2 separate regions of the Homo sapiens genome follow, and region 1 is linked to region 2. The links come from fine-mapping of genetic effects on gene expression. A gene starts in region 2. The other region holds a variant in brackets. All regions are shown on one strand. Distances are from middle to middle.

Region 1 (4,391 bases), 120 kb before region 2:
GCTGAGGCCCTTGCATTTATATGACGTGACTGAAAACTGTTCTGCAATTTTCAAATATTCCTACAAGCAACATATATGCTTAACTTGTAGTCTAGTTAGAATTTGGGAATACTGTTCATCTCTCAGGACAGCTTGGCCTTTTGCTCTAGGCTGCAAGATATTATTGCTCCAACTAAGTCACACATCTCTGGCATTGTGTTCTATGGTACCTCCTTCGAAAAGCAACAACACAGAGCCAATGGAGTTAGACAAGCAGCCATCTGATGAGCTGAGGTCAACAGCGAATCCTCATAACTCAGTGCTCCTAGAGTTGATGCTCCCCACAATTGACTACGAGGGGCAGCTTGATCTTCTCGAGCGACTGTACATCTGTACCTTCTTAGCCATGCTGAACTAGAAAGCATTGGATAAGACACCAGTGAGCTGACCTGCTTCAGATTCTAAGGGAGTCTCTTCCTGCCACGGAACAAACGTGCAAACACCATTTTGTGACAGTGGACAGAGACTGAGGATGGTGTCTGTGGCAGAACGACTAGAAATAGGCAGTGCTACGGCCTGGTACAGAGCCAGTTAAGCCAACATCAGGATGACCCCAGACACCAAAGCAAGGTAGCGGACAGGCAGGCAGCCAATGAGACCGGTGTATGCTGGGTGATTCAGGGTGAGCCACATTACAGAGCACGAACAATGCTTACACCCAGACCAAAGCAGACTGGTGTAATCCAAAATAACCTCCCACACTGGGTCTTGTCCCTGGTCAGAAGTCAGGTCGGTTCCTAAGTTAATGTGTTTAGGTTAGCCTCAGACTACAGGACAGAATGAAACTCTTCAGCCTAGGGCCAAATAGGCACAAAAATACTTCCCCATTTTAATTATCCTCAAGACTTGCAAATACAAAGGTCAGGGGCATGGCGTGGTTAAGGCAAATGCCACGGTGACCGTTCTGAGACAGAAGCCCAGCTATTCCCCTCGTGCTATGAGAAGAGCACTTTTAATCCATCAGCATGGCCAAAATAACCTTCAGCAGAACTCAATTTCAAGGTTTGTGTAAACAAACCCCATTCTTGTCTCAAAAACGTAGCCTCAAATTTATATGTGCACTTCTGATCTGATTTACTGTCGGTTTACATATTCATGATTTTCATATATAAATAGACAAGAATCCTGACACGAGAGAAAAAAAAGGTTGCTTTGATCACGAATGTCTGGTAAGTACACGGGCTATGCCAAATCAGCTTATAAAAATAGCAAACTTCATTTTGGGAAAACAGATTTCTCTAAAAGCAGTGTTGAACAGAAAGAGCGGACTCCTGGGTAGAGAGACATGAGTTCTACCTTGTTTCTGAATACAGGATCCTTATAGAGGCGTATTTCAATGAAAGGTATTTCCATCTAGAGAAATCATATGTGGGAATGGGATGAGCGTCTTCAGAGCACCTCCCACGGGCTGGGTACCAGTGGCTCTGGCCCACAGCAGCCAGGCGGGTGTGGGATTACCTTTAATGTCACGGTGGACTATGCCATGCTCATGGAGGACGTTGATCGCAATGGTGATCTGCTTTGAATACAGCCTAATCACATGTTCCTGAAGTCCCAGCCTTGACACCTCTTCTAAAGTCCCCTCATCGCAGTACTCCATGAAGATGTACATTTCTTCCTGTGGGAGGAATAAAGGGCAGCTCTGTGTTTACGGTTTTCCTTAGATGTACGCTAGTGAAAAATCTGGAAAACTTCCTAGGCCACACCCCAAAGGAATGTTCTTTCTAACGGTATACTACACTTGCCATCCTGAGCACTGAATGTGTCTCACAACAGTCGTTTCTAAGTCCTCTATAGAGGTGTCTGCCTGCCTCCTCTGTCTGGAATTATACAGCTCTTGGGGATAAGAACATCTCCAAATCACAGGGGATCAATTTCTATTATCCTCTGAAATTAAGTCTGCTATATAATCTCAGACAGGGACCAACAGGGCTGTCCCTACAAATACATTATTAAGTACTGAAACACATCCTTTTTAAACATAATTTGTAAAAACATTAAAAATGATCCATTTCCAACTTCCCCTGGAAGCTCATGCTCTACACCACGATGCTCCAAGTTATCCTCTTTCCCTCGACGTGTTTATTTCTAAACACAAGG[A/G]GGAAACTCAATTTGAGGTTTGAATTTTCTCTCATTTCACAATGGCTCCCTAAATACATACAAGAAAAAAACCAGTATTACTTAACAGTGTACTCAACAGTGGTTCAGCAAAAAAACGGAAAAAAAGTCACAAGAAGTGGTGTAAGGGGCGTTTTAGAAGAATCTTCTGAATGGCAGGATGGGTTTCAGTGCTTTATGATGTCGGGTTAATGACTACAGTCTACAACTTACATTTTAGGAGGAACTCCTCTAGTTTCAGAGAGAAGGCAGAAATGATGTAACTCATGGAGATTTCCTGAGAATTAGGCAAAGTTACTGTGCTCTGAAATGAGAAGACCTGTGATGTAGAACAGGACTCCATTCTGTGCCCTCACTGATTCCTCACACAAAGAGTGGCATTAGGGTCGGCTTACTCTATGGAGCTCCACACCAAAATACCGAACCAGATTGGGGTGTTTGATGCCTTCGAATATTTTCAATTCGTCTGCAGTTTCCTTGATAGTCTTATGGTCATTAGGTTGAAATCGAATCTGTAAAGTGAGGTGACAAAAATGTTAACTGGCTTGATTTAATCACTCTACATTATACACATACACTGAAACATCATTTTGCACCCCATAAATATATGTAATCATGATTTGTCAATTAAAAACAACAAAAAATTAAGTAAAAAGGAAGTTTTTAGCCAAGCTAGAGTGAAGTCATAGAAGTGCGGGTAGGTCCCGGGCACAGAGGAGGAAGAGGCCCTGCTCCGAGAGGGAGTGAGGAGCGCCATGTGGAGGAGGACGCGGCTCCACGGCAAGTGCAAGACGCTGGAGCCTCCCCTCTCCACTCCTCTCCTCCTTCCACGTCAAACCGGATGTCTCCACAGACAGCAGTGAGTCCTGTTTCTACTTCAGGTTCCCTGGCCCTTTCCCCATCCTACCTCCAGCGGTTTCAATGCCACTTGTTTCTGAAGCTTATCATAAATGTTATCTTCTCCCCCAATGTGTCCCCATAAGACACTACTGTTAATCCTCTCCTCTAAGCCTTCATCAGACTCAGCTCTGCCACCCTCATAGGCCCTTCTCACACCTGTGCTGTTAGAACTGTCTGTGACTTATTATCCTCTCTGGAATCGTAAGCCCCTTCACTGTCTGTGTGTGTTATCTCAGTGCATCTGCCTGGTTGGTCCTGACTGTCGCAGTGCTGGTGCTGAAGACAGCTCTACGCACAGAGAACTGAATCACGACCAGCGTCTATACGGAATTTCTATCACCCAGAGCCGCCAGGCCCAAAGGCCCCACGGAGCCAGGTGACTCACCTCTTTCATGGCCATCAGCTCCCCGGTGTCGACGCTGATGCAGGTGTACACCTTCCCATACTGGCCTTCTCCTGTGAACAATGCAAACAAGCTGCACTTCCAGCCACTGCAGGGGGCTGTCTTACATTCCTTAAACTTGTAATAATACTGTCCAATTATTTTGGACGTATATTTATATATCTATAATTATGTTTACTGCAGTTTACTATTGCAAGATCCAAAATTTTTCTAAATGTTCCCTGATAACTAAAGTTTTAGGCAATCTCTTTAATATGTCTTACCTACAAGTATCTTTAAATAGAGCAGAACCGACTTTGGTAAATTCCAGGAGAAGCATGAAAATGACCAATAAAAGCAGCCTTGGTGCACACCTCTGAGCCCTCACACCCCTCAAGGAGATCTTGGCTGGGGCTGGGAGCAGCAGAAAACAGCCAGGACTAAGCCTGACCATTGTCTTCCTCACTGGCACATGTCCAGGAGTGTGTGGGAGCAAACATTCCCCTAACATACCTTCTGGGACATTAAAGCAAGAGGATATGTGCCTGGACAAGACTGATAACAATAATTAATCCAATTTATAAAGTACTTGATTGTTTTCAGTGGTTTTTGCCCTCCTTGATAGCTCCAAGGAAACATCAGGTTTCCTCAGGCTGACAAAGTCCCATATTATTCATACAACTGTGTTCGCCCCCTTCAGACCTAGATGTGTGACAGATAAATATATTTAAGTGGGGAAAGGATCTGAAACACAAGACTTCTTCCCTCACATAATTTACGACTATTTTACATGAAGCAATTCCACCTGGAAATTAATTAATGAGGCAATGTTTTAGAAAAGAAGACTGTCTTGCCCTCATTTGTATCCAGTCTCTCTTCAAATCACGTTCTGCGTGTGTGTGTGTGTGTGTGTGTGTGTGTGCGCGCGCGTGTGTAGAGAGAGAGAGAGAAA
Region 2 (4,391 bases):
TAACACAGACAGAAGCCTGACTGAAAAGTCAAGTTTTTTTTTTTTTTTACCACTGAAGCAGCAGTCATTTTTGCAGCACATTTTCATTTCTCTGCCCTTCTCGCTTTTACCTAAGAATGCTCATGTCCATTTCTTTCCGGAGTAGGGTTATACAGAATTCTAATTTCTGATCCGCCCATTTGGATAATGAATTCTTCATGGTGGTTAAAGACATGGGCTGTGCAGCCAGACCTTTCTTCATTACCAGCTGTGAAACCCTGGACAAGATACTTAAACTGTGTGCCTCAGTTTCCTCATCTGTCAAAAAGAGAGTATAACAGGACCTACCTCATAGAGTTGTTGAAAAGATTAAATGGGTTAATAGAAATAAAGACAATGGCCTATTTTAACCGTTAAGTGTTCACTATTAATTTTAAAGAAAAAGGTATCAAAATTGCTCGAAAACTGATCCGTTAACAAATTTATAATAAACTTTCTGACAAAATTTCTAAAAATACTAGATGTATTCAAAAGGAACCAAAGGAATTCTCATTACACCCTGTACCATTATTCAGAGAAGTTGTTCCTTAGAAGTACCCAGAACTATCTCAGAATTAAAAGAGGCAACTAATTTCTTCACAGCTTATAAAAATAAAACAAATTTGTTTGGGCCAACTGAATGATGACAAGCAAGAATATGGCTCCTGTGTTCAGTTCTAACTACAGTTACAGGTGTGAATTTTCTTTAAGCAGGAAAAAGAGGACACTTTACTGCCTTATTCCTAGAACCATAGAGCAAGACCATAAGATGCCAAGAGGAGCTGCCGAGGTATTTTCATTACAGGGGACAGGGGGCAGCAGTTTGCAAGTTTACTCTGGGATGCAAAGGACAGGGAGTAAGAGGACATTTGAACATACAAACATAGGCACGTAAAAAGAGGGAAATTCTCAGTTATGGTGAGTTTGTTCTCTCAATTAAAAAAAAAATAAAGACATAAAAATAAGTTAATAGAGTATGGAAGAAAAAGCAACAAATGCTTTGGTTACCGAAGTTCCACCTTAGAGCTTCCTGCAGTAGCAAAGTTTTAGACAAATGAATCCTTACTTTTGTGCACGTGTGAGCAACAATCTGCACAATACTAGCACTAAAGGACAGTAAGGGGCCCTCAGAACAGGAAAGCAACGTATCTGTCTGCATAGTCTAAGTGCAATTTCTCACGGAAGAGATGACAGGCATTCTCTGGAGCGGGCAAAAGGAGAGGAGGAGGAGAACGCGGGGAAATAGCCAGTACGCACTCGATTTCCGAATGTCTCTTTTACTCGAATGAGGGCAGAGGGGAGGGACCACTTTCGTTCAGTAATGATGAGAGGCACTTCAGTGAGGCCACTCTTCCGAAGCTAGCGGCAGGGGAGGCAGCCGCACTCTGCTCCCAGCCCCCGCAACGTTGAGGGTGAGCTGGGGGAGTCTACAAGGGAAGGGGAGCCGGCAACACGCTCGAGCGGAACCCTGCGGAGCTGCAACCCCGGGAGGAGTCGCCGGACAGACTCAGACGCGGTCCCCTGGGACCCAGGGATGCACCGCGCCCCTCCCGCCCCAGCCTGCAGAGACTGGATGCTTCCCTCCCCACCTGGCGGGAAGCAGAGGCCCTCGGGCCCGACCGAGTTCGGGCCAGGACCCGCCCCGCTTTCTGCGAGCGACCGACTGCGGCCGCCACACTCACCTCGCCGCCAAGCAGCACTCGGGTTCTGACTCGGTCTCGGGTTCCGGTGGCGGTGGTGGCGGCGGCGGCGGTGGCGGCGGCTCCTCCATGGCGGCGGCAGGCGTGACGGCAAAGGCGGGAGGAGGGACCAGCGCGGCAGCGGCTTCTCTCATCCGTGCACGGAGCCCCGCATGGCCGCGGCGGGCAGTAAGCTGCAGCCTGGCGCGGGGCACCGGAGCCCCGAAGTGCGGGAGTGACTCGACTCCGCCTCCGCCTCTACCCCGCCGCAGGAGCCGTGCGCGCCGCGGCCATCTTGGAAACGGCGACCGGCCGAGCGCCGGGGCTACGGTGGGCGGCGAGGGACAAGCCTCCCAGATCGGCGGCGGTGGCGGCGGCGGCGGCGGGCGCCGGAATGCGACCGGACGGGGGCGGAGACGGCGGCAGGGAGGGGCGGGGAGCGCCGTCAAGTGTCGGCGCGATTCGGTCCTGGAGCCGGGTCTCGCCAGCTCGCCCGGTGTCGCCCCGGCCGGTGGCAGTGGGGGACTGTGGAGCGGAGCCGGGCTGTGCAGCGGGCTGGGAGCTCGAGGCTTCCCAGGCGGTCGTCGGTCTGGGAGGGACGCTGGGTAGGGCCGATGAGCGGGGCGGGCGCGACGCTATGAGCCCGGCCGGAGTCGCCGCCCAGGGACCTGCCACCCGGATCCCACCTTCCAGGAGGACGGACGTCACCCAGACGCTCGCAACTCCGGTCTCTTGACAGCGCAGCCTTCCACAGGCTCGAATTTTTAAGACTTGACATAAAGTCTCCGGAATTCCAGATTATTAAAGTGACCCCCTCATTTCAACCCGGCAAAACTTCTCACCCCAGTGTCATAAGATTCGATAGCGATCTCCCAGAAACTTGGACTGGAATGCTCCTACACTGAGGGGATGGGGGGAAGAAGAAATGCTAAAGATTATTTCAGAGTTACAGAAATCCTGTTGAAATTCCAATGCATCGTTTACTCTTAGCGCTGGGGCTTCACAGTTTTTTTTTAAGTTGGAAATATTTACAAAATTTCCCATAGGGTGAAATCCAGAGTTAATCCAAAACCAGAATCTTTTAAAATTAAGTACATTCAAATGTGCAGATTTCTTAAACCTCATTTAGTTGAGCTTTGATAGGTGAAACGCACGTTTTGAACAACTCTGGTAACAAAGAAAAACATTAAATTGATTATAGGTATGTTATATTTAAAGACCAGTTGTGAAATTAGCTATATTGTGCTCAAAGTATGTTACTGACATTTCTCCGTCGTTAAAAGGAACTGCTCCATTCTAGTTTTTTATAATAGTCTGTATTATGTATATAGCCTGATAGTGCTGAATTTCTGAATTGACCTTCATCTTATTTACTCAATAATATTCATTTGACAAATACTTATTAAGTGCATATATGTGTCAGGAACTGTACTAGATGCTGAGGATATAGCAGTAAGCGCAACAGACCAAGCTAACAGCTTAGTAAAGGGTGAGGTAAAACAAAACAAAAAAGTATTCAAAAAAATAAACTAATTTTTATCTTAATTTAAAAAATTACAAATTTTTAAAAATCACAAATTGGTATCCATGTATAATTCATTTCCGTGCATTTTCTTGTGTGAAGAAAGCTCAGTAAAAGTATTTCTTAGGTTTCTGTAATTCTAGTTCTCTACTCGATTTTCTTCTGCAATTTTCTGAGCCAGAACCCTTCTTAGAAGGCATATTAGAGACTTTAAAAGTTAAATAATAAAATAAATCTCTTCTTTAAACAGCATTGTACTACGTATTCTTTGGTATGACTACCGAATTTAAGCTAGCTGATAATGCAGACACGTGTGTCCAAGTCACAAAACACTTAGCAAATATAATCAGCATGCGGGAGACCTGTGGCTTGTTCTTGTGTTTTAATTTCCACTTGAGGATACTATGTATTTTAGCAGGAACCAAGTAAATTTACACTTACCTAATCAAGTAATGCATCATGTATAGAAACCTAAGTTAACTGGTACTAAATATTCAATATAAGTGTTGTGACTTTTCGCCCCACCCCCATGCTGGGTCCAGGAAAGCTGTTTCTCTGGCTGACAACCCTCTCATCTCACCCCGTGCCCCCACTTTGTCTTCAGGGCTCCCAGTGAGCGCCTCACAGCCCCCAGATTTCTTTTCTGCCTTCTCCACCATAGTGTAAGCTCCTTCAGGAAAGAAGCTGTTCTTCCTTCTTCTGACCTTTGCCTAGGGATCAAATGTCTCTGGTGCCCAACATGGTGTTAGTAGAACTCAGTAAGTATTGTTGCATTAATGAAATAGTTATTTTTTTTAAGTTATTAGATTTTTGTCTCTAAATTTTTATTCTTGTTTAGCACATGGTTGGTCTCATTGTCTCATTACCTTTAATAATGTTCTTTTTTTATTTTGGAGACAGGGTCTTCCTGGGCTCAAGTGATCCTCCCACCTCAGCCTCTGCTGTAGCTGGGACTACAGATGCATACCACCATGTCCAGCTAATTTTAAACATTTTTTTTTTTTTTTTGGTAGAGCTGAGGCCTCACTATGTTGCCCAAGCTAGTCTTGAACTCCTGGCCTCAAGTCTCCCAGAACCCTGGGATTATAGGTGTAAGCCACTGCACCCAGCCTAATCATGTTAAAAACAATGACAACAAAATCTTCAGAGAATTACCTTTCACTCTTTGTCCT

Direction of the effects. Positions count from the first base shown, and alleles are read on the strand shown. Sizes are in standard deviations (SD) of each study's normalised expression.
As copies of A replace G in region 1, the expression in monocytes after R848 of the gene that starts at base 2,015 in region 2 goes up (large effect, 1.2 SD a copy in Quach 2016).

Evidence for each region. PIP is the estimated chance that this variant, and not a neighbour inherited with it, causes the effect.
Region 1: its variant is fine-mapped to the expression of MAP3K4 in monocytes after R848 (Quach 2016, PIP 0.95). The same link has a PIP of 0.9 or more in monocytes after LPS.

Annotation. Positions count from the first base shown.
Region 1 is chr6:161,107,021-161,111,411 of GRCh38, reverse strand. It overlaps MAP3K4 (mitogen-activated protein kinase kinase kinase 4), which reads right to left. Exons shown (of 27, transcript NM_005922.4): 21 at 3,443-3,513; 22 at 2,553-2,669; 23 at 1,498-1,657. Among named protein-coding and RNA genes, the nearest start is that of AGPAT4-IT1, 53 kb to the left of the region's middle. The variant A/G (reference allele first, on the strand shown) is at 2,140.
Region 2 is chr6:160,989,393-160,993,783 of GRCh38, reverse strand. It overlaps MAP3K4 (mitogen-activated protein kinase kinase kinase 4), which reads right to left and starts at 2,015. Exons shown (of 27, transcript NM_005922.4): 1 at 1,701-2,015. The coding sequence starts at 1,852. MAP3K4-AS1 (MAP3K4 antisense RNA 1) reads left to right here and starts at 1,442. Exons shown (of 1, transcript NR_174962.1): 1 at 1,442-3,466. RefSeq lists silencers at 1,210-1,339, 1,253-1,547, 2,010-2,339 and enhancers at 1,608-2,477, 2,430-2,499, 2,520-2,579.